3 linked regions of the Homo sapiens genome follow. The protein of the gene in region 1 purifies or fractionates together with the protein of each later gene. This does not show direct contact. Each region holds a gene or a part of one and is shown on either strand. Other genes may lie near its edges.

What was found.
Region 2: the proteins of ANGPTL3 (region 1) and CCDC91 purify together in Homo sapiens (affinity purification with mass spectrometry; 2 studies listed by BioGRID and IntAct, with this or other methods). This does not show direct contact.
Region 3: the proteins of ANGPTL3 (region 1) and GULP1 purify together in Homo sapiens (affinity purification with mass spectrometry; 2 studies listed by BioGRID and IntAct, with this or other methods). This does not show direct contact.

What each region holds. Positions count from the first base shown.
Region 1 is NC_000001.11:62,592,601-62,600,519, forward strand, and holds the start of ANGPTL3 (angiopoietin-related protein 3 preproprotein), read left to right. Parts: upstream 1-4,919; 5' UTR 4,920-4,966; coding exon 4,967-5,461; intron 5,462-6,095; coding exon 6,096-6,206; intron 6,207-7,919. UniProt on the Homo sapiens protein: Acts in part as a hepatokine that is involved in regulation of lipid and glucose metabolism. Proposed to play a role in the trafficking of energy substrates to either storage or oxidative tissues in response to food intake.
Region 2 is NC_000012.12:28,542,770-28,550,917, forward strand, and holds the end of CCDC91 (coiled-coil domain-containing protein 91), read left to right. Parts: intron 1-6,293; coding exon 6,294-6,404; 3' UTR 6,405-7,397; downstream 7,398-8,148. UniProt on the Homo sapiens protein: Involved in the regulation of membrane traffic through the trans-Golgi network (TGN). Functions in close cooperation with the GGAs in the sorting of hydrolases to lysosomes.
Region 3 is NC_000002.12:188,294,289-188,302,436, forward strand, and holds part of GULP1 (PTB domain-containing engulfment adapter protein 1), read left to right. Parts: exon of another isoform or gene 1-105; intron 106-3,203; exon of another isoform or gene 3,204-3,300; intron 3,301-8,148. UniProt on the Homo sapiens protein: May function as an adapter protein. Required for efficient phagocytosis of apoptotic cells. Modulates cellular glycosphingolipid and cholesterol transport. May play a role in the internalization and endosomal trafficking of various LRP1 ligands, such as PSAP.

The sequences.
Region 1 (7,919 bases):
TCAGAAAGAGACAAACTTAAAAAGAGGGTAACAAGGAGGGGAGCAAATTATGTACATAACCAGATGATTCGCAAAGACGGCAACAGAGATGGCCAGCAAAACAAACTAGATATATACTTGTCTATTAGATTTATCAACATTTTTTGCCTTTTTCATTAAAAGCATTTGTAAAAGGATATAGGAAAAGAGGAACTCTCATATACTCCTGGCAGGGATGTAAATTGGTACAACCCTTTTGAAGGACAATCTGACAAAAGCAATCGTAAGTTACAAGTCAACATCTATGAATGTATATGAAAATATTTATATACATACATCACCACCATAAAAGCATTTTCTATACATACTGTTTATAATTAGAAAATTGGAAACAAATGATTAAAAGGGGGCTGATTAAATTAAGGTTCATCTATATAACAGGATTATGCAGCTATTAAAAAGGACGTGGTAACTCTATAGACATTCATAGGAAAATAAATTTTAAAATACTAAGATCCTGAATGATATATATATCATGAGCTATTATACATAACAAGATCCCACTTGTGTTATAAAAAATTATGTTTAGTCATTCAAAGGGTCTGGTATGATAGACCCAAAATGTTAATAGAGTCGAGATTTTTATTTTTTATAGGTTTTTGAAATACCTGAATTTTCACAATAAGTACTTTGCACATTAAAAATCTTAGCTGGGCATGGTGGCTCACGCTTGTAATCCCAGCACTCTGGGAGGCCAAGGTAGGCAGATCACCTGAGGTCAGGAGTTCGAGACCAGTCTGGCCAACATGGTGAAACCCCGTCTCTACTAAAAATACAAAAATTAGCCAGGCTTGGTTGGGGGTGCCTGTAATTCCAGATACTCGGGAAGCTGAGACAGGAGAATCGCTTGAACCCAGGAGGGGGAAGTTGCAGTGAGCTGAGATCACGACGCTGCACTCCAGCCTGGGCAACAAAGAGCAAAACTCCGTCTCAAAAATAAATAAAGAAAAAATCTTTACATGTCCAAAGATACGGCTGTTCAACTAAAAAATATATATGTATAAAACTTAACATGTTAATAGTGAACACACAAAACAGTAAGATAGATAAAATTATTCCTTCAAAGCTCACTTAACCTCTGGATCTACACTGTCCAAAAAGACGGTCTAATGAGACAATTGAGCACTTGATAGGTGAGTGGTTCTAACTGAGATATGTTCTCAGTATAAAACATACAATAGGATCTTCCTATACAACATTAATTAAAAAACAAACTATTGTAGTTAAAAAGGAAAAAATTAGAGATACTATGTAAAAAAGAGCCAAAATACCTTGTATTTTATTTGAAAGACATATCTCCATAAGATTACACAACCTCGTGTAGGATAAAGGACTTTGCTTTGCTTGGAATTTAAACAATTTAGGCTCTTAAATGTCCTAAAATTCTCTGTAGCTAAGAAATTTTTATATTGGTTCCTAGGAACTAGGAATCCTTAAATTAGGCCCTACATTTGCTTACAAGTTTATTTTCCTTGGCATAAAATTTTTTAGTTTTTACATTACTGGTTATATTTGATCAGGGTTCTATTTAAATAGGCACAAGTTCAAGCAAAGATCAGATTCTGCTTTTAGCAGTGTGTACTCAGACAGGAAGTATTAAAAGGCAGGCAGAAAATCCTTTATAAAATTACTACTTTCAATGCATTTTCCCACGTTGAAATGCTTCTGCAGTTTATAATTAGGCAAATTACTTTAATTATAATCAATAATGCTGTTCAAATTACTATAAGAATTATACAGATATTTATACCAAGAGACAATATACTAGAAACCAAGACTACGTGACCATTACCTCTACTCTGTCAGTGTTATTTGTGAGAAATTGCACAAATTTTGCAAAAAGTGTTAGTATCCTACTACAGTAGGATATAATATAGAAGGAAATAATTTCATAAAGCCTGTCTTTGGTACTAGTGCTCAGTTACTTTCATTAACTAAAAAAGGGGCTACTCTTCAAATTCCCTTCTCTAAAAAGAATGTACTATATCAAAAGGGGGTAAACACTACTACGTATACATTCTGCACTTAGAAATCCCTATATGTTGATTTTATCATTCTCTTATTCAATAAATATTGTTTCTACAATGTGTAAGGCATTACTGTACTAAAGCATTATAAGGAATATAAGTTAAAAACACATACAAATCTTGCCAATCAACAGCTTATAGTGTAATAGGGGAGAGAAGCTGGCCCATCTATATTCTCCCTCAACTAGCAAGTGGATGAAATATCAGGGTCAATAGTTATAAGCCACAAAAGCTGACAGCTTAATTAAGAGAAGTTTTGAAATATGTATTTCATGACCAATAATTACAACTGTAACTTTTCTATTTAAAGAAGGAGAAAATTTGAATTTCTTCTCTAGCTCAACATACACTTCTATAATTCCATTACATGAACCAGAGTAAAGGGTAAGATGGAAATGAAGAATATTTTCTTACCCTTTTGTGGTTCTATATTGGACACTTAAAAATCATACACAACCTAATCAAAAGATGTAATTCTTTAAAAAGGTACGAGACCAAAATTCAGAAAATCTAGACTATAACAAAATTTCTCAATTTACATTATCTTAATATGCAATTAATTTTCACCAGTAAAATACTATAGTATGGGTACAAATGCATTGATTAGTTCTAATTACAAAAATGGCTAATATATAATACTGTGTAGTGTTTATGATACATCAGATAATGTTCTAAGTGCTCTGAAAATATAAACTTTTAATCTTTTATACGACCCTATAAAATAGGTGTTATTCTCACTGGAGAGATGAGAAAACAGGGGTTCAGAGATGTGAAGTAATTTGACCAAAGGTCACAAAGCTGAAGAATATGAAATCCGGGATTCTGATTCAGGCAGTCTTATTCCAGAATCATGCTCTTAACCACTATGGAATACTGCCTCTACTGTAACTATTATACCCAAAACCCTTAATCCTAAGTCATCAAAAGGAAGAGCCTCTATTTTACACAATGAAGAGGCATTTCTAAGAATAGAAATTTAGGGACGAGCACAGTGGCTTACTCCTTTAATATCAGCACTTTGAGAGGCTGATATGGGAGGTTCACTTGAAGTCAGGAGTTCAAGGTCAGCTTGGGCAACATAGTGAAACACAGTCTCTACAAAATATTTAAAAATTAGCTGGGTGTGGTGGCATGCATCTATAGTCTCAGCTACTTGGGAGACAGAGGGAGGAGGCTTGCTCGAGCCCAGGAGTTCGTGGCTATAGTGAGCTATGATCATGCCACTGCACTCCAGCCTGGACAACAGAGCAAGACCCTGTCTCTAAAAAAGAAAAGAAATTTGGAAATGGTTTATTTTGTATTAACAATTTATAATTTACACTGAAATTTATTATGATAAAACTTTTCCCTGTGTTAAAAAGCTATTAACTTTATGAAAAATTTCTTTTAGGTAAGGTTGATTATATATACCCACACACATACACAGGTTAAAAGTTAGTTTCATGTGACATAATAACTAGCATTTTGAGCACTACCTGTTTGCCCAGCACTGTTCTAAGTGCTCTACATGTATTATTGTTAAATTATCATAACACTATGAATTATGTACTATAATTACCCCAGCTTTACAGATGAGGAGACTAATCCATGGGGAGGTTAAGTAACTTGTCCAAGGCCAGACAGCTAGAGCCGGCTTTTGGACCCACACCACAGTCTGACTCCAGCACCCATATTCTTAACAATTTCACCATATTAATATGTCAAGATTAAGCAGTTTTAAAGGATGCTATTTTCTCACAAATTTCTTAATATGAACACTCAATAAGAATAATCACTAATATAAGCATTTAGTATTTTTTTAACACTAAGTTGGAAGCATAGTGGAACATTTATTTTTAGAAATATTATTAATTGGCTGGGCTCACGCTTGTAATCGGCTGGGCTCATGCCTGTAAATTTTGGGAGGCCAAGGTAAAAGAATTGCTTGAGCCCAGTATTTCCAGACCAGCATGGGCAATACATTAAGACATCATCTTTAAAAAAAAAATGTTATTAATCTCCTCTTTTTGTTAAATGTATATTATCAAAATTGTTACTAAGCTAACAAACTTCAGAAAAACTTATGATGGGCAAGCTGCTTGTGACATTGAAGGTATTTAAGATTCAATTCTAGTTTGGTCCTAGATGACCACATATCCATTGTTCCTTCAACGAGCACATGGTAAAGAGCCTAGAACACAGAGACACAGAACACAGTGGAGAAAAGGGAGTGAAATGTCTTTAATGACACTTACTATATATGGGATTTTGTGACAATATACAAGGATGGTTAAGACATATAAGGTGATGCAAAAAAACATATTAACAATTATAGTGACAAAAAATGAGGAGCATATAATTATACATTGATTTATACAGAGTACCAGAGGAACACAGCATTGAGAGCCGTAACACCACCTGAGGGAGTGGAGAAAGGCTTCAGAGAGAAAGTGTTTTTTGGAATGGATCACTGTTTCCAAAAGAACTAAAGTACAGTTTGAGAAATGCATACTTAATTCATTACTTTTTTCCCCTCAACTTTAATAATAAATTTACCCAACAAAAAAGTTTATTTTTGACTTGTAAATCTCTTAAAATCATAAAAAAGTAAAATTAGCTTTTAAAAACAGGTAGTCACCATAGCATTGAATGTGTAGTTTATAATACAGCAAAGTTAAATACAATTTCAAATTACCTATTAAGTTAGTTGCTCATTTCTTTGATTTCATTTAGCATTGATCTAACTCAATGTGGAAGAAGGTTACATTCGTGCAAGTTAACACGGCTTAATGATTAACTATGTTCACCTACCAACCTTACCTTTTCTGGGCAAATATTGGTATATATAGAGTTAAGAAGTCTAGGTCTGCTTCCAGAAGAAAACAGTTCCACGTTGCTTGAAATTGAAAATCAAGATAAAAATGTTCACAATTAAGCTCCTTCTTTTTATTGTTCCTCTAGTTATTTCCTCCAGAATTGATCAAGACAATTCATCATTTGATTCTCTATCTCCAGAGCCAAAATCAAGATTTGCTATGTTAGACGATGTAAAAATTTTAGCCAATGGCCTCCTTCAGTTGGGACATGGTCTTAAAGACTTTGTCCATAAGACGAAGGGCCAAATTAATGACATATTTCAAAAACTCAACATATTTGATCAGTCTTTTTATGATCTATCGCTGCAAACCAGTGAAATCAAAGAAGAAGAAAAGGAACTGAGAAGAACTACATATAAACTACAAGTCAAAAATGAAGAGGTAAAGAATATGTCACTTGAACTCAACTCAAAACTTGAAAGCCTCCTAGAAGAAAAAATTCTACTTCAACAAAAAGTGAAATATTTAGAAGAGCAACTAACTAACTTAATTCAAAATCAACCTGAAACTCCAGAACACCCAGAAGTAACTTCACTTAAAGTAAGTAGAAAATAAAGAGGGTTCATGTTTATGTTTTCAATGTGGATCTTTTAAAAAAAATATTTCTAAGGCATGCCATTTGAAATACTTTGTTGCATTGTTGAAATACTTTTTTTTCCAAGAAAAATAATCTCCAGAAAATAAAATTTCCTATTATAATTTCAAGTTAGTTTTTTGTTTCCCTAATGTTATATATGAAAACACTGAAAATTTGCATTTTATATGAAAATTACAAATCGGTTAAATTATACAATCTAGAACACTATGTCATTACACTATTGTAAATTACTGAAGGTAAGTAAAAAGTTAAAAAAAATTTAAAACTATTCTCCAGTGTTTAAAACAGATTAAATAATACAGTAAATGGAAAAGATTTATTCATATGAAAATATGCTGGGCTTTTTCTTTTAATTGAAGTTCAGAAAATCAAATTTTAGAGATAGTACAATTTAAATAAAATGTTAAGGACAAAAATATGTGCTATTTGAAAGAAGCATACAAGGGGAAGGAATTGCCAATATTCATTTTTCAAATCCATTATTAGTTTAAAAATTTAGATTATGATAGTGTTACAGGAAATTAATAGAAAAGAAAGAGGAAAGCAACTTATAACCAACCTACTCTCTATATCCAGACTTTTGTAGAAAAACAAGATAATAGCATCAAAGACCTTCTCCAGACCGTGGAAGACCAATATAAACAATTAAACCAACAGCATAGTCAAATAAAAGAAATAGAAAATCAGGTAAGTCAGTATTTTAATGGTATGTCCCATCTTTCACACAGGTCTGTAAAAACACTGAATCCTAAAATTATTTACAAGCTTTAACTGGATCATGAGTAAAATTATCACATCAGCATAACTGTTAAAATTGCAGGCTCTGAAGCTAATAAACTACCTGCATTTAAACCATGGCTCTAAAACTTTGTGTGACCTTGAATAAATTACTTCACCCCTTTATCTCTCAGTTTCCTCACATATACTACAAAGATAATAACAGAACTTATAGGATTATTGTAAGAAAAAAAATTAATTCATAGCAGCCAATGTCATCTTACTAAAATTCAAATTAGATCATGTTTCTCTTTGCTCAAAACCACACAATAGCTTTCCATTTCACTCATATTGGCTCTTTAGACCAAGATTACCCAACCCTTCGTCATCTCACTGACTTCACCTCCTCTACTCTAGTTATTCTGACCGCTTTACCAGTATTCAAACACATCAAACATACTGCCACCTCAAAGCCTTTGCCCTTGTTGTTTCCTCTAACTGGAACGCTCTTCTGCCCTGGTATCTACGTGGCCCACTCTCTGATTTCCCTTAGGGTCGTTATCAAACAAAAAATTCCCAATGAAGACTTACAAGGTCACTTAACCAAAAATCACAACCGCCTGGTCCCATCCCTGAAAACTTCTACTTCCTTAGCTACTTTTCTCCTGCACACTCACCTTTATTTAACATAACATAAATTTTAGTTATTTATCTCTTCTATTCCTGCACTAAAATGTAAGCTCTGTGAATACAGGGATTTTTTCCATTATCTTCATATTTTCCATTATTTGTATATACTCCAGAATATAGAATACTGTATGGCACACAGTAGGCATTTCTGTTGAATTAATAAATGTAATGTCATATTCACACAGAAGCGTGTGCTATGATTATTATTACTTGGATTACTAGAAATAGTGTGCCTCATAATTAAAGGTCAACATTCAACAATGTAATTAATCTACAATGTAAACATCTGGTGAAGTGACAGAGGGAAGCACTTGTTTAGAAAAAAGCTATGTCAGAATCCATGTATTCTAATATGCAGTACAATAGTTTAAAAATATTAATAATACTCTCAAACAGCTATTCAAGAGGATTCAAAAAACATAATATAAACTCAGAGAAACTGGTAAACAAAATCATTTTCAAGAGATATAAAACAAATATTATTACCAATTTCCACTAAACAAACATAATGTTAGTAGTGCTGCTAAAAGGTTTTTTATCAACTACTTTTGGTTTCCATACTTTCCTTCTTATGATGTTATTATTCTAAATTCTTTTCAATTATATCTTTTACTATGATTAAATGAACCTGCTCCCCAAAGCAAAATGTTACTATAGTAATATACATTGTGTCTAAAAATAAAAATGTGTGAAGAAACCAAAACAATGAATTTCTGAGTTGGAAGAAGAGTTAGATCATTTAACTTTCTCATATTTAAATTAAAAAAACAAAACTCTAAAAATTTAAGTAACTTTAAGATCACATAGTTACTTAGTAGAAAAGAGTAATACCCAGCAAGCAAACTTTACAATAGATCCTTTTAAATAAGGTCCTAGGAAATATCATTCATGCCAGCATCAAAAAACTAACACTAATAATGCAAGATATTATATATTCTGCTTTTCTTACTGTCAATGAGAAAAACTATCATTCAATAAATTGCAAACCCAACA
Region 2 (8,148 bases), on another chromosome or scaffold:
TTACTTGACTTAAAGGTATTTTTTTTATTTTTAATAAGCAGGACACATGCTGTACAGAAATGGCATTTTGTGGAACACGTTGTAAGAAACACTACTCTGATATATGAGGACCTTAACAATCTGGAAAATAACTGTTTGTTTCCTAGGGCTACTGTGGCAATTTACAACAAACTGAGGGGCTTGAAACAAGATAAATTTATTTTCTCACAATTCTGTAGGCCAGAAGCCCCAAATCAAGATGTCATCAGGGCCATGCTCTCAAAGGCTCTAAGGAAGTCTGTTCCATGCCTCTGTCTTAGCTTCTAGTGATTCGGCCTCCATCTTCACATAGACTTCTCCTTTGTATCTGTGTCTCTGTTTCTCTTCGTGTAAAGACACTAGTGATTGGATTGAAGCCCTACCCTAATCCAGTAAGAGCCCATCTCAGTTTACATCTTAATTACATCAGCAAAAACCCTATTTCCAAATAAGCTCACATTCACAAGTGTGGGGGTAGGACTTGAACATATCTTTTTGGGGGACACAATTCAACCCATTACAATAATTATCTGTTGAATCGAATATCCCACTGTTCTCTTACAAGATCATGTGCTAGCAAGCTTGTGCAACCCGCCTTATTTTGTTGTTTTTGTTCTGTTTTGTTTTGCTTTAGGTTTTTAGCAGCTTGAAGCCGTGGTTTTTAGTTTCTGTTTCTAGTGATAAGCAGAAAAGAGCGATGGGGAAGGGACTTTACTGGCCCAATCAGAAACAGAAACTAAGAACCCATGACTGTATTCTCTTCCTTGGACATCCCCGAGTGTCCCAGGACTTAGTCCTGTAACCTTTTCTCTTTTATCCACTTTCATTCCCTAAATATTTTTATCTGTGCTTTAAATGCCTTCTATATGGAGATGACGTCCACGTTTTTATTTCAAGGCCTGATATCTCCCCTGAACTGCAGACCCCTATATCTGACATCTCCAACATGTCTGATGAGATTAGACAAATTTATCATGTCTGAAACAAAACAGTTTTCCTCTGGCCAACTCACTCCAGCTCCAGTCTATCATATCTCAGGATAGGACACTATTATTCAAAGAATCGCCTTTTATTTCTCTTTTCCTTTCATCTATACTTCCAATCCATCAGCAACTCAAGTTGGTCCTGTCTTAAAATCCTAAACCTGAACTGTTCTTAAGCCACCATTGCCAATATTCTGGTCAAATTTATATCTTTTCCAGACTGAAAGTCTCCTAGCTGGCTTTTCTTCTTCCACTCTTGTCCCGCTACAGTCTGTTTTCCACGTAATAATTTGTACGATATTTTTCAAACAAAGCATGGTCATACTCCTGCTGAAAACTCTCCAATGTCTTCCCATCAAACTGCAAACCTTTAGGGCCCTTTATGCTCTGGCCTCCATCTACTTCTCTGATCTCCTCCCCTACCAGTCTCCTCCTTGGTAATTTTGCTCCAATCTTAATGGATTTCTTACCAGTTCTCCATCAAACCAAGTCTGCACCCCCCTTTTGGAGTTTTTTCCTTGTGTTTCCAGCTACCTTGAGAATTTCTTTCCCCATGTTTTTAGATAGCTCCCTTCTTGTCTCTTTTCAAGTCTCTTAATTACCACCTTCTCTAAGTGGTCTTCTCTAGTCACTTTACCCATGAGTGGATTTGCTGGATAGCCATCCTAGCTCTTTGGAAAAATGAAGTCATTTTTAAGCATTAATTTAAAATATGTAGGAGTGTAAGTTGGAAAAGTAACATTGATAAAGGTAGATGTAACATGTTCACATTTCTTAGTGTATTTTGTTGGTAGAAGCTCAAAACATTGAAAGTGCAATTAGTACTATGTGTATTTGACACACACACACACATACACATACACACATATATATATTTCAAAACAATGAATTATATCTTTTTGGATGTGAACAGTCTTCTTAATAAACAGTCCAATTAAAATAAGCCAGATGTGTTTGTAATTGACTTTGAATGTTGCACTTTAGACCAATGTAAATTCACCATCATATTGCATTTTAATGACTGGCAAATAAAAAGCTAAGGTCAAGAGATGTTTTATTTTTCTTTTACTTTTGCAATGGCATGAAACACTCATGAAAGGGTAAATCTAATACATGAAATTATTAAGAAGACATGCTATTTCCCCCCACAAGCTTAATAAAATTAAAAATTTTAGTAAGTAGTATGCTTCTAAAAGGCTTTCAGCAGTTATACCAGCAAACTGAAGCCTAGTTGTCTATTTCAGAAACTTCAGAATTTCCAGATTTTTCAGATATGTGTAAGAGCTGAATAGAAATTAAAGCAACAGAAAATGGAAGAGAAAACAAATCGGTTAGAGCTACTCTATTATGAAGAGATTTTTAACCCCATATCAAAAAAATATTTGCCACCACTACTCTGGACATAATATTTTTCATTACTATGTCACAGAATACAAATCTTTGATTCACTTTGAAATGAAAGCCACAAATACAGAACTAAGTCCCATACCTTAAGGAGCAAAAAAGGTGAATATTTTGCCAAAATTCTTCTCGCCTCAATAAAGGATAAGAAGGTCATGCCTAATAAAACAGTAACTGTTGAAATTCAGGAATTTGCCAAGAACATCAGTTTGATGTATTTGTTTCAAAGAGAGGAATTCAACATCCTTATAAGAGAAAGGTTGTATGTGTTCCATCCCACAGCCATGATCTATGTACTATGCCCAAGAAGGACCCACAAAAGTGGAAGCTCAGCTTTGTGATGGCCCAATCTCTGTTTTCCTCCTCATACAGTATCGGTTCGCCTTGTTGCTTCTTAAAGTATTGTGCTCCTGTTTATTTAAAGGATTCTTACTTTCAGAGTGCTCTGGGGAGGGAGTGGTAAAGATGTGAAGTGAGCCTTGGCAGCTGCCTAAAACCAAAACCTTCATGCCTACCATCTTATAGTCAGTAATTCCTTGGTGACATCTAACACAAGCAAGAGAAGCGTGTGGTGTGTTTAAACAGAAATCTATCAAACTTTTTTTGTCCTTATATATATATCCTCTTAAAAAATTACAGAAATACTCCTTTTGAATGCACAAATTCAGATTATTGTTACTTAGCAACAGAGGTTGAATGCTTGTTACACATTGTGAAATTGTACTATATTCCCTCAAAAGGAGAAAAGTTTCTCATTTATCTAGCTTCTAAAAATTCTAAGATATTAAGTCATATTTGTTTTTAATGTATCTCCTGATTGTTCTGGGCGATTTGTGAAGGATTTTGAATTGTTAAAGCTAGCACATATGTTATATGTACACAAGTTATGAAGCATAATAGTAAAACAAACACCCATGAAGCCACCTCCAAACTGAATTACGTATCTCATCCTGCCAGATTCATCCTCCAAATACAACTATCCTCAGTTCAGTTTTTATTGCATTGTTTACTTACCTTAAAAAGAAATGGGTTTTTGCCTACTTATATGTCTCAAAATAATATACCGCTGAGTTCTGCTTATATTTTGTGCCTATGATAAAAGAGTTATGAGACTATCTGTAGTCTGGTCACTTCCTTCTTAAACTCAGTTTTCTTACAAATGCCCACTAATTTATATTCTTCTGAAATATTTTATATTGGCAATATATGTTATATTAAGGTTTATTATAAAGCTGTAGTAATTAAAATAGCATTACATTTGTGTAGAGATAGGTGAATTGTTCAAGGGAACAGGATGGAGAGCCTAAAGACAGGTTCCTGCATATATGGAAAGCTGATTTATAATTGGAGGTAGCATTGCCAACTACATATTCTTTGGCTCATACAATTTCCACAAGCTATACTAGCACGTGTATACAGAGGTCTGTGTTGAAGGATGTTCATTACAGCCTTAATTATAATAGCCAAATATTATGAACAATCTTAATGTCTGTGAATATAATGCTTTAGAATATTAAAATATCTGTTACATATATTATAACTATAAAATGAAAACTATGCAACGGTTTAAAAGGAAAAAAAAACAAGAGACACTGATCCTCTATAACACTGCAGTTGGGACTGATAACTTAGTATACTCTCTGGGAAGAAATTTGGCAATATGTATCACAATTTACAATATGCAGATGTGACAGATTTCAGTACCTTGAACATCTTTTGAAGGGTGTGCACTCAGGTTGTAAATTTTATTGCTTGAAAAACAACAAAAAAGTTAGAATAAACTTACATGTCTGTCAATGGGAAAGTAGCTAAATAAATTATGAAATACAGTTAAGCAATTTTTTAAAATGAGATAGGGAAAACTTCCAGTAATGGCAATGAAATAAAGTGATTGTGTGGACCCTCTCAAACTTAAGAATTATAAGGATTATAAGATGTGGACCACATATTTTTAAAAACCCATCTTTAAATGCTTAAAAACATCCAAAAGTAGACAGAAATCACTGGAGAATGGACTGGAACTGAGTATTGGTATATTCTTCTGTACTGTTTAATTTAGACCAAGTGCAAAATAGTTTTAGAAGCTGAAAATACTTAGATTTCAATCTGTTTTACATATATTAAAATGAAACTTTTAAAACTATGACTTTAATCTCCCATGTATCTTTTAGATTAGGTTAGCATGCTTTGGTTCTTAGCATTAAAAGTACATCTGTCATTTTCCAGTAGATTGCCTTGTTTGATTGGGGTTATGTATCTTGATTCACTCAATCTCAGCAAATATTTATTGCTTGTCTAACATGTGCCAGACCCCCTCTAGATGCTAGGGATAAAGTAGTTAGCAAGACAGACAAGATTTCTGCGTACCTGGGTCTTACATTCTAAGATCTCTTTTGTTTAATAGTCTTATAAGCATAAGGTATGTATTCACCTGAAGGTATCATCCAGTAGAGGAAGAAGGAAAAAAAACTGTGAGGAAAAATGATAAGCAGAAATCTTACTTCTGTATATATAATAGAATCTCCGAATATTGGAATTGAAGGGATTCAGTATAGTTCAATGATTTTACAGGAGCATTTTGCTAAATATAGTGATTCTGTTTGTTTAATTCTTAGAATATTTCAATATTTTAGTCATCCAATTTTTCAGCCATTTTGAGTATAGTAGATTATGGAAGTATACTTTAATGAGAATTATTGTTCAGGTTTGCCTTTGTGGGGGATGCAGGGGCTTGTGAGAAGAATGACAACTTTTACATAAGTATGACAAGTATATTATGAAATGGAATTTATTTGTCTTTTAATTCCTCCATTGTTCTGTAACCTATAGGGAATGTGTTTGCCTAGTTTTGTTATTTTTACCCTATGGGCAAATTTTTTAGGGCCAAAAAGTTTGAAGCTTTTCTTCTTATATTCAATAATGTTTACCATCCAGAGAGTTCTTTATTATATATAATCCAAATGATTTCCCTTACTAACCCTCTTGTTTCGTTTACCATATGAGTTTGCTATTGAAATATTAAAACATCCTAATAAAACATCTCTACCTTAGCCAAGGGACAAGAACAAAAAAAGTTTCAACAGTATCAAATATTTTGTGTGTTGTTTTATTTTTTTAAAACAGAGTCTCACTCTGTCACCCAGGCTGGAGTGCAGTGGCGCAATCTTGGCTCACTGCAACCTCTGTCTCCTGGGTTCAATAAATTCTTTTGCCTCAACCTCCTAAGTAGCTGAGATTACAGGTGTGCACCACCATGCGCAGCTAATTTTTTATATATTTAGTAGAGATGGTGTTTCACCATGTTGGCCAGGCTGGTCGCAAACTCCTGACCTCAAATGATTCGCCCACCTCAGCCTCCCAAAGTGCTGGGATTACAGGTGTGAACCTCTGCACCTGGCCTCAAATGTTTTTTAAAGCATACTTTTCCCCAAAACTTTCTCTAATTTCAGCAAATTGTTTATCTCCTCCCTTATAATTTGTTCCACTAAACCCTGTGTATGATGTGATTATGCTGTGTTTCTGTGCTATGTACTTATTTTGTTACTTGTATCTGTAATATATTTGTGGATGTTTGGTTGCGTATATACACTAAGAACTGGCATTTTAATACTATTTTATGTTTTCTGAAATCATTCTGATCAAATGTATGATATTTCTCTAATAACTGAGTAACAACATCAGTTATAAAACTATAATGATTATCATCTCATCTTAGATGATTTAGGCCAGAAAGAGTGACTTTACTGTCATTCAGTTGAAAGTACTATTTGATTTCCTAAATTGTCTCATCTGGAAAGTTTTTTCTAGTGGGCTTCAGAGACATAATATTCTTTATCCTTCAACTCAGTATTTTTTTTTCTCTTTCTCTCTCTCTTTAAAAAAATTAAACAGCTCGATCAAGTCATCCGCCAAAGAAGCCTGTCCAGTTTGGAACTGTTCCTCTCCTGTGCACAGAAACAGTTAAGTGCTTTAATAGCTACGGAACCAGTTGACATTGAATAAAAAGAACATGACAAACCCACACTGGCATTGGATAAATCATATTACACCTTCAAAATACACACTCTGAATTATAAAGATGTGTTTGTTTTCTTTCCAAATCATGTAGAATTGATTTCCAGTTCAAGGATAAACCAAAACAATATTTAGAACTATCAAGTGATCTAATTTATTTTCTTTTGGTTTCTTCTTTACATTTACTGTTATTTTATTATTATTAGTAGTAGCAGCAACAGAGTATGATATGACCCAAAAGCCATTGTAAAGTGCCACATTACCAAAATTAATTAAGTAAACTTTATAGCCTGTGGGAGTCTATTATATATTATTTTGCAAAAGTAGTAAATATATTATTGTTTCATGATGACTCTTGATGAGATGCTAGAATGTAACCATACATTTATCTTATTTTGAGGATAGAAATAGCATGGATTTCAACATCACTTATTTATCTGTATAATTGGAAATAAAACACCGATATGATAGAGAATCATTCCGGCATTACCTAACCTCTTCTGCAGTTGGATCTATGTATTTTCATTGGTCTACTGAAAACAAACAATACAATTAAAAGCACTAAAGATTATTATATTAATTCAACTTTGATCTGATATATCACTTAAACTAAAGGGGTGTGTGTGGTGTATGCTTGTTTCCTATTTCTGCTCTTTAAAGATACTTTGAATCAATAAAACCATTAGTCTACAAATCAAATTGTGAACTTAATCTCTAGAAAGAGAATATAACTCAGCCATTTATAGGAATTTAGGTTCAAGTACAGGATATATGAAATCTTTTCCCAGTATTTCAGAATGTACTTAATTCACAGGCAGGATGCTTCAATGCAAAATCATGAATATTTTTAATTCAAAACTAAAATGTCATTAATATGTATGTATGCAAATGTTTTATCTTATTTTCTGAAATGCATCTACTTTCATGGGCTTTGTACGTTTCTGAGATTTCTCAGTGTAATAAAAAGAGCTCCCAAACTTATTTGGTTGTTACTTTTTGTTTTTTTTTAAATTTCTTTAAAAAATATATTTTATTTTTTTTTAGAATTTTTCTTTCTCAAGTTGAAATTTTCTATCCTAAGTCGTTTTATCACTCGAATATTTTAAGAACAAGACTAGCCTTCCTTATAGACCTGCTTGGCCTTCTAGCCCTGCTAAATTTTAATTGTAGATCCTTAGACAAGCTGCCTAACTAGTTAGTTAGACAAGCTGCCTAACTAATTTGAGTCTCAGTTTTCTCATTTGTGAGGTAGAAAGAGTGATTTTTATAGGCTATTAAAAAAATAAATCTTGTAAAGTACCCCATATAGTGCTTGCTGGTATAGCCTCCAGTTTATAATAATTTCCCTTTCTCTGGAAATTAATCACAAAATACAGGTGTGAGTACCTACAAACAAGTGGCTAAAGCATAGCATTCTGCCCCTCTAACCTTGACTGACTGACCCACAGGTGAAGACCTGACCCCAAGTGGGCCTCTTATGAAAAGTCTTATGGTGACATCACTTCAGCTTCCTTACCATAGGGAGACAGACATGAACCCCTATTTCTGAGGTTAGAGGTGACCCCAACCCTTTTTTTCCTGAGTCTCAGATTCTGTGAGATACCTGAATATTCTTCCAATATGTTATATTGAATATTCCAATATTCTTCCACTTAACTTTTTTCCCTTAAGCTAGCCAGAGCCAGTTTCTATTATGTGCAACCAAAAAACATTACCCAAAGCAGTCAAGCAC
Region 3 (8,148 bases), on another chromosome or scaffold:
TGGGTCATGGAATTAAAGTAGAAACGTATCCGGCATGACTTCTTTGTGCTTATCAAAAGTGATCCTGATAAACAGATCTTGCTCTTTCATGTAAAGAAGTAAAAGGTGAGATGATCTCAGTATTTCACACATTTGCCCTTTACTGCTTCCTAATTCCAAACCAGCTAGGAACTCAAAGCCTTAACTGCAATTCAGACTCTTCTTTGTGTATTAAAGTTGTGTATGTTTCATCTCTCTTTTTTTTTTCTTCAGAGAGGTGGGTTGTAGGTTTACTATTGTGGGCTTAGGGGTTAAATGGTTAAAACAAACAAACAAACAAACAAACTAATGTGGTTTATATTTCCTCTGTATTTAAGAGTTTGAGATTGTGAATATTAGCCTGCTTTCTGAGACTCACTTTGTGAATCACCCTCAGCCAAATGTTTTCCCTGACTATGATTTCAGTTTTTCCACTTGCAAAGTAAAGAAACTTTCCTTTACATAATTACAAGATTATTGTGAGAATTAAAGAGATGAAATAATGTTAATAGGCTTTTCGACATAAAGGTCATAGGATTTCTGACTCAGCTGACTCAGTTGAGTTTATGGGGATAAAATAGGAATACTTCTATGTTGAATACCCATGTAATAATGACATATCTGGATCTAATTTATAAAAATTACCACTTTTACATTTTAATCATAGCTTTAATTTAATCATACATTTTAATTTTTGAGGATATAAGGGAGATTTTGTTATGGTTAAGGCTGAGTCATTTTCTCAAACAGAAAAGAACAATTAGCACATTCATTTATTTTTATTTCAGTTTATATTTATACACAAGACCAGTTATTTTTAAAGTCCAGCTTAATTTTACCTTTATGAGAAGTTACCAAGTATATTCACAGAACTTGGCTCTCTTCTCAGAAATAATGCTTGAGAAGCTGAAATATATTTATGACATACAAACAGACTTTCTTTTCTTAATGGCCACAACAATTTCCTTAAGAATTTGGAGGATAGATTTTGGAGCCATTCATTAATAAATCCAGCCAATGTTTGTTGCATGCATATCATGCATCATCGGGCCTGTATTCCAATCAGCACCGAACTTCTCAGCTCTGTGATTTCTGTGCATGTTATTTTACTTCTTAAACATTTTTCCAACATATCATTTATTGCCTATGTTTCTGTCTATAATTTATGAGCCTGTTCATTGTTGATTCATTATGATCATTGTGAAATATTTACTTTTTAGTGTGACATGTCAATTAGTAAAATATACTACATATTTTTATGGTTCATTGTACTGTGCTACAGTCATGGATGTTTAACTTAACTCTTTTTCGGGTGAACAGATCAACTTATTAGAGAAAACAGAATAAGTATAGATAAATTGTTTAAAGGATAAAGTCTTTTGCTAAAATACCTAGTCATAGCTTTTATTTTTAGACTTTATATTATAATTAATAGTGAATCTGTAAAAAGCACGTGTATATGGGATATAGTAGTTGGGTTGAAACTTACACTATGGGTATCCTTGAACAAGTGGCTGTTTGAGGATATATTAGGGTAATTTTAATATAAAATGTCAAATTTTACCTTTCATTTTAAATTAGAAATCCTTAAAATTCTTATTTCCATTGATGAATGGTAGGTGATTTTAATTTAAATTTTACTTAGCAGAGTGATGTATTTGTGATTCAATTCGCGATATTGCAATTTGTTTTCTAAAACCTCTAAAGAATAAAAAAAGTTATTTTATTTCAGTATAATAATGAATTCAAAGATAGTTACAGAAGCTAACTGCATAACTGCCATGAGCCCTGGTCCCTAAACGTATTAGAGGCTGGTGGATCTAATATTGTTTGCCTTAATGCATTTAGAGATCAGGAAACTTAAGCTTTTTCCCATAAGAGCATAAAATATACTCAGATTGGAAGAGGAAAAAATGGTATAACTTTGAATGGAGAAATCGCTTCACTTTCAAATACTGGGGATATGAAATTGAAATCAGGCCTTTATTTTTAAAGAGAATGGCTAAAAGTCATTGTTCCAGAGTAAGACTTAGAAAACAATGCTTATACTGTTTTCAGGCCCTTGTTATTTGCGAGTTTTTTGTTTGTTTTATGCCTAAGAAATGTTTTCAGCCACTCTAATGATGCTTACCATGCATGATTGTCATCAGAGGACAGTTAATTGACTCAAATATTGTGTGGGATAGTAAGTGTCAATTTTCTGTTTACATTGAAATGGTATAGTTATGGCGAATTTGAAATTAGTTTTGTCTTTCAGTGTAGTATACTTAAAAATAGTTTTGAAAAGGCTGCCCTAATTTGCACACATAATATGAATAAGTAAGTTAACTTATATAGAAATTAAGATTTTCAGTATATTTTGTGCTAAATTGCAAAGATTAATATGGCTTTTTAAAGGAAGTTTTGAATAGCCTTGTATGTATTTTCTAGGATGCAACTAAGAGAGTGCATCTAGATATCAATACCTGCCTTTATTTCATGTTTGTTTTTTGCTATTAACATTATATAAATGTACCTATACATCAGCTGTATCATATACCTCCTGATGAAGAAGTTCAGAATAGACCTTAGAAACTTCCATATTTTGGGGGACTACTTTCTCTCTGTCTCTCTGTCTCTGTCGTTCTCTCTCTCTTTGTCTGTCTCTCTCTCTGTCTCCATTTCTTTCTCCCTTTCTGTGTGTGCATACTTATGATACATATATATTCTTTGATGTTTCTCTATTTGTGCTATAGTTTTTCTGTAGGGAAAAATAGCTTCAGTTAATTGATATTTTTGAGCCCAATTTTAACAACTAATTAAAAATGTTTCCCAGATAAGTATTGCTAGAAATCCTAGAAATCCTTTTTTTTTTCTTTTTTCCAAATTCTAAAAGTGTTTTTAGACTTCTATTTATACCTCCGAAAGAAGAGAAAAATAGTTGGCAAGATCTTCTACCTACATTCTTTGTTGTAGGCTCTAATGATGGCATACTCATGGAAGCCCTTTCTACTCTTCTTAAGTAGAACACAAGCACATGTACAGTTAACTACTGTAAGAAGGTAAATTCACTACTTAGAAGTTAGATACTACTGATAAGTTTATCAGGTATTGTGAAGTGAGAATTTTATACAAATGTAGTGTTTTCCTGGTATGGTACAGCTTTTTCTTAATATTAGGTGTTACAGTTGATCCATTTCTTGAAACTTCATCCACCAGTCCTCCAGGAACATCAAGGATCTTAAACTTTGCCAGAGCTACAAAGGCAAAGTTTAAGATCCTTGAAGTTCCTGGGGGAACCATGGATGGCTATCCTTATTTCTATAAGAGAGGAGACTGAATACTGTGGGCTCAGTCTTCAGTCTACCCTCTTATAGAAATAAAGACAATCATTTCAGAGCATACATAATCTACTGACTGAATCATTAATGATTTGCCTGTTTATAGCTGTATAATATTTCATGAGGTGATAACTATTGTTCTCATTTGGTTTGTATTTAAATTAGATAATATCAATTTTAAATATAATTTTAGCCAAAAAAAATCAAACAGAACATTTGTAGTATGGTAGCAAACGTGCAAATTTGGGATAAAAAATTGAAATAAGAGAATAAATGTGATTTTAGCTTCTCAATTTTTTTCATAGCCATTTATAACCATCAAGAGATACCATGTTTTAAGTAAAATTTTAATAGCAAATAGGTTCATTTACCCAGATTTCAACCTAGGTGAATTAAAACATAGGGTTATAAGTACTAATGAGAGTTTTAAGAAACAGTATTTTGTAAAGTATCTTTGAAGGTCAAACTACATGTTATGCTCTGTAATTTATTTTATTTTTGTCTGCTTTGAGGAACTGTGTAGTAATAAAGGACTTTGGTTGATGATCAAACTCTCCTTTTACTTCCTTGATGATGTGTGTTATTATAGTCATAAAGATGTCCAATAACATAAACACTGAACTTTACTAGTAGTGCAAATAAATACAGAGAAAGTTTGGCTGATTAGAAAGAACAATTGCATAACTGAATTAATTTCAAAGCAATTTATCTCTATGCTGAATATGTTAATTAAATATAATTAGAGGGTGTTTATGGATTGTAGTATCTCAGAATATAGTTTGAGAGAATTTTTAAGGAGTCACATTTGAGTAAACAAATTTTATTTGAAATTACGTAAATGCAATATGAAATGGCAAAAGTCTATTGGTATTTTAGATTTATAAAATAGCATTGTTTTAGAGTAACAATGGCTATTGCTTTAAATTTTTATGAATTATTTTTTCTGTTTTAATGCATCACCATGACTGGATATGTAGGAGAAAAACCTTTAAGCTTCTTAGCAGTAAATCAGTAAGAGGTCTCATATTGCTAATGTCTTTAGTCATTTTAAAGGAAGAACTACTAAATTTGTAAAATCTGAGTTATCATAGGTTTAGCTGATTACATTAAGCAGACTAGGAAATTCATGATCAATTTGGAAAAATAAAATTTTCTAGAGTAGTACAGATGAGGTTTTAGAGAACAACATTTTAGACTTGATGTTGTTGGAAGTAAATGCTCGGTGCTGCCAAGTGAATATAGCACTCAGGCAAAAGTTTGCTCAGCAAGGCAATTTACTTCTATAAAAGGGTGCCTCTCACGGATGGAGCAATGGCAAGAGCACACCAGACAAGGGAGGAGAAGGGGATCTTACTATTAATGCAGCTAGTCCCTACTGCTTGTTTTTCCCCTATTGGGTAGGGTTGGACCGCACAGTCTAAGATAATTCCAACTGGCTATTTTAAAGACAGCAGGGGTATGAGCTGGAGTGGCGGGGTGAGAAGCTTTGGTGGGAAGGACGGTTACAGAGCAGGTGACCAAGGATGACTAAGGACAGAGCAGGTGACTAAGGAGGGAGCAGGTGACTAAGGATGACTAAGGACAGAGCAGGTGACTAAGGAGGGAGCAGGTGACTAAGGATGACTAAGGACAGAGCAGGTGATAGAGGCTAGGAGGGGGTTGTTTACTAAAGCTAGGGACAAGGAGATGTAAAGAACGAGGAAGTTAAACTTTCAAATGGAAAACAAAGAACAGGGAAGCTCAATATACTAACATATTGGTTCTTTGAAGAGGAATTTACTGTATCCTACAATGTAATGAATCTTTCTTTGGGACTTTCTTATTCAATGAGATTTTGTCTTTATTCAGTGATTTTCCATTCACTTAATATACATTTGAAGTCTTTCCCCCCTTCTCATTCTGGGAAATATAACTGTGTTTAAACTGTGCATCTGCAAATAAAGAGATTCTGATATGATACAGTTGAATTTAATAAATACTTATCAAATAACACTTGTTCTTTTTGTAGTTGTGTGATTAGTAGGTGACAGAGACCTCCTCTTATTAACTTAAATAGAAGTTGGTATTTCTATATAATTCTGAGGTACAGTGCAGAGGATGTTGAGGAAGGAGGAGTGGGGAAAGCGGGTATTCACCAGTGTGAAGGGAAGCAGTGTATGGAAAGAATGTGTGCAGGTGATTCTTAGACCAAGTCACAGAGGATGAGGATGAGTTGGGCAGGCATTGAAAAGGGACAGTGTCAGTCAGAGCAGGTGGGATAGGCAAGAAGGCATGAAGCCATGAATGTGGTTTAGGAGAACAACTTGTGGATTTTACAGTTATAGAGATGTTCCTCCTTTATGTTTCCATGTTCATGAACTAACCATTAGTAATTACATAAAGGAGTTTTAGCTGGATTAATAGTTTTAGCTGAATAATTTTAGCTGGATTATCTTGCAAAACAACCATCTTGTTTTTCTTTCTTTTTTTCCATTTCTCCAGACCTGATCAGCATGTAATTGGAATCACAAGGAGTAGGTTGTGCTCTCGATTTCATATTTATATTTAATTTCAGAACATGCAAATTAAAAAAATTTTTAATCACAGCATTAACTATATTGGGAGGAGTTATGATTTGGCTCTGCATCTTGTCTTATATTTGTTTATTTTTCATATATAAAGAACAGATGTGTTAAATAGTTATCTACTTGGTAGTAAGTAACTGTGCCAGTATTAACAATTTTTATGAATAATATTGAAAAAATAATTTTTTTCTGAACATATGGAAACTTGATAATTTTTCTATGCATCATTGACTTATTTAAGATTATATATTTGGTTATATGGTGTGGATTACTTACTGATCATTGTTGATAAAAAATTTAAATGTGTGCTAAGAAGTTTGGAAAACGAATTTAGAATATGTACAAGTACAACAAATTACTATCTTATGAAGGGGACCTATAATTAAAACATATATAACATAATTTAGTTCGCTATATTCCCTTCTTTTTGCTTGGCTTGACCATTCTGTGAGATACATCTATTTTAAAATTAGTTTATTATTGATGTTTGATTTATTTGAAACTAATGATTCAACTTTATTTTTGAAGTATGTGACAAGAGCAGTCTCTTTAAACTTGTTAATTTGAAATAGTTAATATATAGAGCTTCACATTTATAAATCAGTTTAGTAGGTCTGGACCACCTTGAAGTTCCAGGGATGGGTCTAAGGTAATAGTTTTGTACTTGAAAATTGACAATACTGTCAAGATCACAATAAGAAATAACTGTCTTTCAGTCTCTTTCTGGCTTTTGGCTTCACTTTGTGTTTTCTGTAATGGTAAGCATCAAGCACCACTGACACTTATTTGCTTCCTTCTCCTGTTGAATGTCCAGGTTCCTGTTTATTTATTTATTTATTTTAGAGACAGGGTCTCACTCTGTCACCCAACCCGGAGTGCACTGGTGCAATCATAGCTCACTGCAGCCTCAAACTCCTGGACTCAAGTAATCCTCCCACTTCAGCCTCCCAAGTAGCTGAAACTATAGGTGCATGCCACCATGCATGGCTAATTTTTAAATTTTTACAATTCCTTCTAGAGACAGGTTCTCACTGTGTTGCCCAGGCTTGTCTAGAACTCCTGGGCTTAAACAATTCTCTGGCTTTGACCTGCCAATGTGCTGGTATTACAGGTGTGAGCACTGTACTTGGCTCCAAGTTCCCTTTTAATGACAATGACATTGGGTTAAACCAGGTGTGATTTTGTACCTGAAGTTAACTCTTCTTTCCGTTTCTTGCATTTCCATTTGTAAGAAGCATGTTTTCACTTTTGAGAGCTATATCACCTTCCTTGTACTGTGGCATAAATTATTGATAGTCCACTAAAATCTATTCCTTATTCTTCTTTTCCCTGGTATTATTCAAATGTCCACTCTTTCCCACATAACTCAGGGGAAGTCAATCCTACTCCTAATTCAAGGGAATTTTAGATTAGGTTCAGCTAAAAATCTTGGTGTTTCTATGCCCCTTGGCAGTGATTGTTCCTTGTCCCAGTTTTAGTCATATGTCACATGTCAGGTGAAATGAGAGGACTAAGGGGAATGGGTAGAAAAGATTTAGTTCCACTTAGCAAGGGAACATTGGATGAGAAAGCACATGTTGGCTTTTGATATTTGTCCTATCTGGAATACATGCTTCTTCAAATTGCTACAGGGATCATCTTTTGTCACGAGGAGATTCAGCTTGAGGGCAAAACAAATGCCTTAAAATGGCAGAAAAAATATAAAACCTTGGGTACTTGATGGAATCATTGGGTTCTTGACTCCCTACTATATTTCTGGATTTACTGCTGTGTGAGATAATGAATTTCTTTCTTTTTCAAACCAACTTGAATAAAATATTTGGCTACTTAAAATAGTATCCTAATTATAGCCATTATTAAATGATATCTTAATTTTGTAAATAAAAGTTTTAGAAGTAGTAATTTAGATTATTGAAGAAACTTTACAGACTACTTGGGTTTTGTAAATTTTAGATATGGTTAGTGCTATTAGTCTATAAAAACTTATTATTCAAATCACCATGCATTAAGTTTTTAATACAGTAGATAAGTCAATCATCTTATTAACTAGATTTATTTTAAAATGAATAAATTATGCAGGAGGTAGAGGCTAGCAAAACTAGGAATAATCTAACAAGCTCAGACAATAGAGAACTAAATTTAAAATTTTTTGAAATATAAATTCATAATCTAATCAGTTCACAAAATTATACCACTATTTATTGGCTGTGTGGTATCTTTAGTGTATTGAAAACATTAAATATACA